2 linked regions of the Homo sapiens genome follow. The protein of the gene in region 2 interacts with the protein of the main gene of each other region in a biochemical or structural test. Each region holds a gene or a part of one and is shown on either strand. Other genes may lie near its edges.

Region 1 (3,500 bases), on a different chromosome or scaffold from region 2:
ACTCTTGTCAGTCTGTGTGCTGCTGTCCTTGCTGCCTGTCTTGGCGTGGGCACTGCTGGCTGCCGTAGTGGAGGCTATGGAGGACAGTGCTGAGGTGGGTGGGGGTGGCAGCAGTGGGGCAGAGGCATGCTCATGGTGCTCCTTCCCCAGCAGCAATCCTGAGGGCAGAGAACAGATTTTTCAACATTCTTTTTTTCCTTTTTTTTTTTTTAAATCTAGTCTTGCAGATCTGTTCCTTGTTGATTGATGATTGCTTCATTCATTCATTGATTCATTCCCCAAGCATTTAATAAACACTTATTACAAGGCTGATAAAATAACAAACACTGAGAGAATAAAAAATGGAAGACCTAGTCCCCTTCCTAAAAAATTGTAGGTTTTTTTTGTGTGTTTTTTTTGTTTTTTTTTTTTGGAGTGGAGAAGTAGTTGTCAAGTAAACTGATTATAACTTAATATATAAACTGTAGGATACAAATAAATTATTCACAGGGTGGTATGGACGAACAGAGAAGTGCCTAATTGCCAGCAGGAGGGGTAGGGAGGTTCCCACAAGGCTTTCCAGAGACCATGCTTGCTGTTACCAACGTGGCCCAGAAGGGCTGGCCTGAAGCGTGGCAGTGTGCTTAAGAAAAACTACAAGGCTTCCCCGGTCCTAGACATGTTCCCATTGGCTTGCTGCTCTTCTGAATAGTTCACAATTCCACCCCACTCCTTGTAATGGATGATGGTCCCCCACAGGCTTGGATTCAAAGATAAACATGCTACCTGCACATTTCTGCGGTGGAACTGTAGCCTCCCAGAAGCAGAAAGCCAGCCAGCCTCCTAGGAAAGGCCACTTAGCCCTCTCCTTACCCCCTTCCTCAAGAGTAGTGAGGCTGGGGTGGGGAAGAGGGGATGCTGGCTATGGAAATGGGAGGCGTGGTGTGCAGAGGTGTCCATTTTCCTCAGAGCCTTCCTGGAAAGCTGGGTGGGAGGATAACTTTTTATTTTTAAATACAGCACACACGCGGGAAAGTGCCAGCACCCTAGAATGCTAGCCTATAGAAAAGGCGGTAAGCGCAATCAAGTATTTGTTCTCTTATCTGGTTAGATAGCCAGCAATTCATAAAGTATCCTCGCCAGAGCTGTTTTAAGGTGCCCATTTAGAACTCAGGGCAGTTCAGTTTGTCGAGAGCAGTGCTTTTCAAAATGCAATGTGCATAACAATGACTTGGCTATACCGTTAAAAGGAAGACCTGATCCAGCAGGCAGGGCCTGGGATTCTGTATTTCTAAGAAGCTCCCAGATGGTGCTGGTGCCACTGGTCCACAGACCACGCTGAGCAGCAAAGGCCTTCACCTGCGCTTCCCACATCATCTCACTTCATACTGCATGTCATTCCTGCGAGACAGGCCTTATCCTGTCTTACGGAGAAGGAAATGGAAGCTCACAAAAACTAACATCTCACAGCTAAGAAGCAGCAGAAATGGGACTCAAACCCAACTGTGCCTGACTTGGAGTCCAACCTATGTTCTTTCCACTTCATCGCCCAGCCTGTGGAAACTCCAGAGTCTGCAGGATGTCCTCGTAGGGAGTGACAGGCTGAATAAGTCACTAGCCAGCCATAGCTCCTGGGATACCCTGGGCAATTGGGAAGGTATATGCTGTCACCTCCACCTCCTTCCAGAGCCTATCAGGCAAGCAATGGTGACAACATGTGGGGAACTGTGCAGTCACCCATGAACCTGCCTCAGCCCCTTGGAGAGTCCCTGTGTTTGTGACACGTGGACACCAATGACAACAATGAGGAGGAATATCAGTGCAGGGAACACAGCAGCTCTTCCTTCAAACAAGTCCTCCGGCTCCCAGGCCTGGTTTAGACATGCCAGGTCCTGGGGCATACGGGCACAGACACCAGAGATGCCTGCCTGGCTGCACGTCACAAACAGGGGACTCCCAGGGAGGTTGCTACCAGAGCTGAGCAAATTTTCAAACTCCTTGACCAGGCCTGGCTCAGCACTGCCTCCCAGCTCTCTAGCTGGGGTGGGAGCTAAATGTCCTTGGGACAGTCTTTGATGATCTCAGCTGCTGTCCACACACGTCTTCTTTGAAGTGCATTTCCTTTGGGGGCAGGGGCTGCTGAAGCCACCAGTGGAGGGACTTCAAACACAGATTCTGGTTGGGAGCCTTTGATCCCCCCAACTCTGTCGGGTTCATATGGAAGCTCTTATCCCCTCTGGCCCAGAGCAGCCAGTCTCCTTTGGGGTCTTATGCTGAGGACCACTGGCTCTCAGCTGCACAGAGAAACAAAAACACGATCTGATGTGGGGAAATGCATCAAAGAAGGGCCAGACCCCTGGAGAGGCCAGAGTGCAGGGGAAGGATGTGGAGGACCTGTGTCTGAGCACGCTGCCTGCTTCCCCTCCAGCTTGGCTAGCCCAGCCAGCCAACAAGCCTGCCTGCCCCCAAGAAACCTACTCCTGGCTAAGACCACACTTAGGGAATTCTGCCCATGCAACAACAATACAGCAAAAACTTACCACCCCTACCTTATGCGAGAGAGCACTTCTTCCAATGTGCTCTCCCCATTATCCCATTCTTCCCTCCCACGCCCCATGGGGTAAAGCAGGCAGACACTGTCCTCCCCCCATTATCCCATTCTTCCCTCCCACGCCCCATGGGGTAAAGCAGGCAGACACTCTCCTCCCACCATTATCCCATTCTTCCCTCCCACGCCCCATGGGGTAAAGCAGGCAGACACTCTCCTCCCCCCATTATCCCATTATTCCCTCCCACTCCCCATGGGGTAAAGCAGGCAGACACTGTCCTCCCTTTCCAGACGTGGAAGCAGAGGTGGAGCCGTCATACAACTGGTCTAGAGCAGAGCCAAGTTCAGAGGCGTGATGTCTCTAGGCTTTTCTATGAGAGCCTTTTGTGTTATAAGGGTCACCTCAACTTACAACAATAATAGATAATTCTGATCTGAGTCAACCCATGGCTAAGAGCTACTCCAGTGGTGCAGTCTTTAGAATTTACACAATGCTTCCACATATCTATAACTGAAGTATGACTGATTTCCCTCCCCACTTCACAGATGAGTAAACTGAGACCAGGAACTATTCAGGGACATTTCCGTGTCCCATGAGTGGCAGAGAAGCTGTCTGGTCTTGCTTTTCCAATCATGGTCTGACAGAGGTGTGGGGCTCACCTATGCTCCCCTTCCAGGTCTTCTCTTCCTTCTTTTCCTCAGCCAGCTGGCTGCTGGTAAGAGAGGTCTGGCGAGAGTGTGTCCCAGTAGCTGCTGCTATGGATGGAACGGAGCGGGCAGGACGTAGGCTGGAGGAGTCTGTCTTCCCGGCATCTTTACGAGATCGCTGCTGCAGGACCTTAATCATAGCATCTTTCTCTATGATTTTGGCATGGAGATTTTTAATACTGTAAAACAAAACAAAACAGTCTCCATAAAAAGCCACTTGGCTAGAAAAACTTGAAACATTTATCTCAGGCTGTCCCAAAGACTT
Region 2 (3,943 bases):
TGTCAGGTTCCACCCTGAGCAAACACAGCTCCCCTGGCCCCTGGCCAGCCCTAAAGAGGAAGAACAAGTACCCATACTCCCTGCCCTGGACTTTCCCCGGGACTCAGGGCCACGAGGAAGCACCAAGCCAGGGGGCAGGACTTTCTCGAGATGCTGAGCCTGAGGCATCAGCTGGGGGCAGGGCCAGCCTCCAGAGCACCACCCCCGCCACCAGCTCCCTGTCCTCTGCGTCTTGACTCTTGGCCGCCTGACATTTCTACTTGGCTGTGCGGCCCGGGGTAAGCGGCTGTCCTTCTCTGAGCCAGGGTTCATCCTCTACAAACCAGGAAGCTGATGAGACCAGACTCCGATTCGGACCGGGATAGCTCGTCTTGACCCCAGAATGACCGAGAATCTGTTACCCGCTTTATTACATCCGGCACTCAACAGCCCTGTGCCTTGGTGACTCCATATCCCCCCACCCCTTTTTTTTTTTTTTTTTTTGAGACAGAGTCTCACTCTGTTGTCCAGGCTGGAGTGCAGTGGCACAATCTCGGCTCACTGCAACCTCCACCTCCTGGGTTCAAGCAATTCTCCTGCCTCAGCCTCCGGAGTAGCTGGGATTACAAGTGCTTGCCACCATATTCGGCTCATTTTTTGTATTTTTAGTAGAGACAGGGTTCCACCATGTTGGCCAGGCTGGTCTCGAACTCCTGACCTTGTGATCCACTCGCCTCGACCTCCCAAAGTGCTGGGATTACAGGCGTGAGCCACCGCGCCCGGCCCTCAATATCCCCATTTTACAGAGCAGGAAACAGAGGCCCGGAGAGAAGGGAGGTGTGGAAGCCAGATCTAACTGAGTCCACGGGTTTGCTCTCAAAACCCAGGCAAGGTGGGATCCATGTCGCCCACCCCCACGGACTCCCGAATCTCAAGCAAGCCTGCTCCCTGGGAGCTCTGCAGCCACACAGCCACAAGGTGACCCCAAATGCCGGGCCGCTCTGTCCCCCACTATGCGATCATCCATGCCTCCTCGGCCCCGGGGGACCCTCTTGGTTCTGGAGAGAGACTTGAGATGCAATCGGACACTTGGCTCACGAGGAAGCTCCCTTGGTCTTCCCATTTGGGAGCAAATGACCCAGAAAAACACTTTTGCTGCCGACCCCTCCCCTCTCTGGCTCTGAGCGCTCCTTCCTCCTTCCCCTCTGCCCCATCCCACAGAGATTTTGCTCGGAGGAGTAAAGATTAGAAAAAGAAGTCTGGGCGCAGTGGCTTGCGCCTGTAATCCCAGCACTTTGGGAGGCCGAGGGGGTTGGATCACCTGAGGTCAGGAGTTCGAGACCAGCCTGGCCAACATGGTGAAACCCCATCTCTACTAAAAATACAAAAATTAGCTGGGCATAGTGGTGGGCGCTTGTAATCCCAGCTACTCGGGAGGCAGAGGTGGAGGCAGAGGTTGCAGTGAGCCAAGATCGCACCACTGCACTCCAGCCTGGGCAACAAGAGCAAAACTCCGTCTCAAAAAAAAAATTAGCAAAAGAAAGGCCACCCCAATCCCTCCCTGCAAAGCTCCTGGAGGTTCCAGCGGTGAGAACAGGGTGAGGGGTTGGGGGGCGGGAGACGCAGTTGTTTCAAAACTTGGGAGCCTTTTAAGAAGTTCCAGGAGGCTCAGAGATGAGTGAGGTCGCAGCCTTTCCCACCTGTCACCTCCTAGCCTCGGGCTGCAGGAGGTAAACCCAGGCTCCGTCTGGACTGATATCCCCTCCCCTCCTCAGTTAGGGGGATCAGAGACCAACCTGTGCCCCTTTGCCGCCTCCCCGGTCCCTGCGCCACCTAGGTAACAATGACCCTTTTAAGTTTCCAGCTCAGCGTCCTGGGCAGGCCGCCAGGTGCAGTAACTGCCGGTCAGATAATCCCTACGAAACTATGTCAGATGCCCACGCAGGAGTGTCAGTTTCCTGCTTTCCGAGGAGCCGGGGAGACAGCTCGTGGTGGGGGAGGTTGGGGGGGAGTCTAAGGACCCTCAGCTGGGGAAGGCCAGCTCAGACAATGCACACTGGGTGGAAAAGCACAGTGGGGCGGGGGACTTACCTGTCTAGGAGGCTGGGTGGCCTCTGGGCAGGCAGCAGGTGCCAGGGCCCGGGTGCCTGCCTGGCACGGGTGGTGGGGAGGGAACCCGAGGCTTGTAGCTCTGGCCTCCCCACCTGTTTGACCAACTTTTCCTCTCTTGTGGTGGCAACAGGGAGGCAGGTCCCCTGCCAGTGGAACTGACGACCACAGACACAGGGAGACGGACCAGGGTGAGGGGCGGGCCAGCAGGAGGACTGGGTGTGTGGCTCTGTCGCAAGGTGCCCTCACGTGGGAGCAACTGGCCTTAACCCCTGCTTGCCCAGAGGTGAGCTTGCTCCTGCCTGTGCCCTCACCGCCGAGGCCCTGGTATCAAGCGTCCGCACATGGTAGGTGCTTAGGAAACCCTCGTTGGCTACATTCAGACATGAATGGACCGCACTCCCGGAGTCCCCCTCCCTCCTGCTTCTTGCATCTGGAGCTGCCCAGTCTCTGTGCTTGCTGAGCCTCCTGCCAGGCACGCCGGCCCATCAGGCTGTGGCTTGGCGCACTCCCTTCCCCACGCAGATCTGTGCGCAGTCTGCCTCTCTGCTACGAAGTGACTGGGTTCCTACGTACAGAAGCTTCTGCCACTTCCCCGCTGTGTGGCTTTGGGCAAATTACAGGGGCTTCTTGCTGTCCTCATCTAAAAAACAAGAAAGGGTCAGGTGTGGTGGCTCACACCTGTAATTCCAGCACTTTGGGAGGCCGAGGTGGGAGGATCACTTGAGCCTGGGAATTTGAGACCAGCCTGGGTAACACGGTGAAACCCATCTCTAGAAAAATTTTTATATATCTTTTGTTTGTTGTTTGTTTTGAGATGGAGTCTCCCTCTGTCACCCAGGCTGGAGTGCAGTGGCGCGATCTCGGCTCACTGCAACCTCCGCCTCCTGGGTTCAAGTGATTCTTCTGCCTCAGCCTCCCAAGTAGCTGGGATTACAGGCGTGCACCACCACGCCCAGCTAATTTTTTTTTTTTTTTTCAGTAGAGACGGGGTTTTCCTATGTTGGCCAGGCTGGTCTCAAACTCCTGACCTCAAGTGATCTGCCCGCCTCGGCCTCCCAAAGTGTTGGGATTACAGGCGTGAGCCACCGAGCCTGGCCTAGAAAAGTTTTTTTGTTGTTGCTGCTGGCTGTTGTTGGTTTTGTTTTGTTTTTTGTTTTTATTTTATTTTTTTTTTATTTTTTTGAGACAGAGTCTTGCTATGTTGCCCAGGCTGGAGTGCAATGGCTTGATCTCGGCCCACTGCAACCTTTGCCTCCCGGTTTCAAGTGATTCTCCTGCCTCAGCCTCCCGAGTAGCTGGGATTGCATTACAGGCACCAGCCATCATGCCCAGCTAATTTTTGTATTTTTGTAGAGACGGAGTTTCACCATATTGGCCAAGCTGGTCTTGAACTCCTGGCCTCAGGTGATCCGCCTGCCTTGGCCTCTCAAAGTGCTGAGATTACAGGCGTGAGCCACCACGCCCAGCCCAGAAAACTTTTTTAAAAATTAGCCAGATGTGGTGGTACACACCTGTAGTCCCAGAAACTCAGGAGGCTGAGGTGGGAGGATCAATTGACCCTGGGAGGTTGAGGCTGCAGAGAGCTATGACTGTGCCACTGCACTCCAACCTGGGTGACAGAGCAAGATCCTATCTCAATAAAATAAAATTAACCAGGAAGGGTTGGGCATGATGGCTCACACCTATAATCTCAGTACTTTGGAGGCCAAGGTGGCAGGATCACTTGAGGCCAGGAATTCGAGACCAGTCTGGGCAACATAGTGAGACACCCCCCCATCTTTACCAGTACATTAAAATTAAAATTTAAAAAATTAAGTCTGGGCTCAATGGCTCACCCCTGTAATCCCAGCAC

The links. The genes of interacting proteins can lie anywhere in the genome.
Region 1: the proteins of TJP3 (region 2) and AMOTL1 interact in a test that uses a peptide from one of them, tested with the Homo sapiens proteins (one large-scale study listed by IntAct).

Annotation. Positions count from the first base shown.
Region 1 is NC_000011.10:94,865,856-94,869,355, reverse strand, and holds part of AMOTL1 (angiomotin-like protein 1), read right to left. Parts: intron 3,415-3,500; coding exon 3,188-3,414; intron 159-3,187; coding exon 1-158. UniProt on the Homo sapiens protein: Inhibits the Wnt/beta-catenin signaling pathway, probably by recruiting CTNNB1 to recycling endosomes and hence preventing its translocation to the nucleus.
Region 2 is NC_000019.10:3,706,689-3,710,631, reverse strand, and holds the start of TJP3 (tight junction protein ZO-3), read right to left. Parts: upstream 2,249-3,943; 5' UTR 2,071-2,248; intron 1-2,070. UniProt on the Homo sapiens protein: TJP1, TJP2, and TJP3 are closely related scaffolding proteins that link tight junction (TJ) transmembrane proteins such as claudins, junctional adhesion molecules, and occludin to the actin cytoskeleton.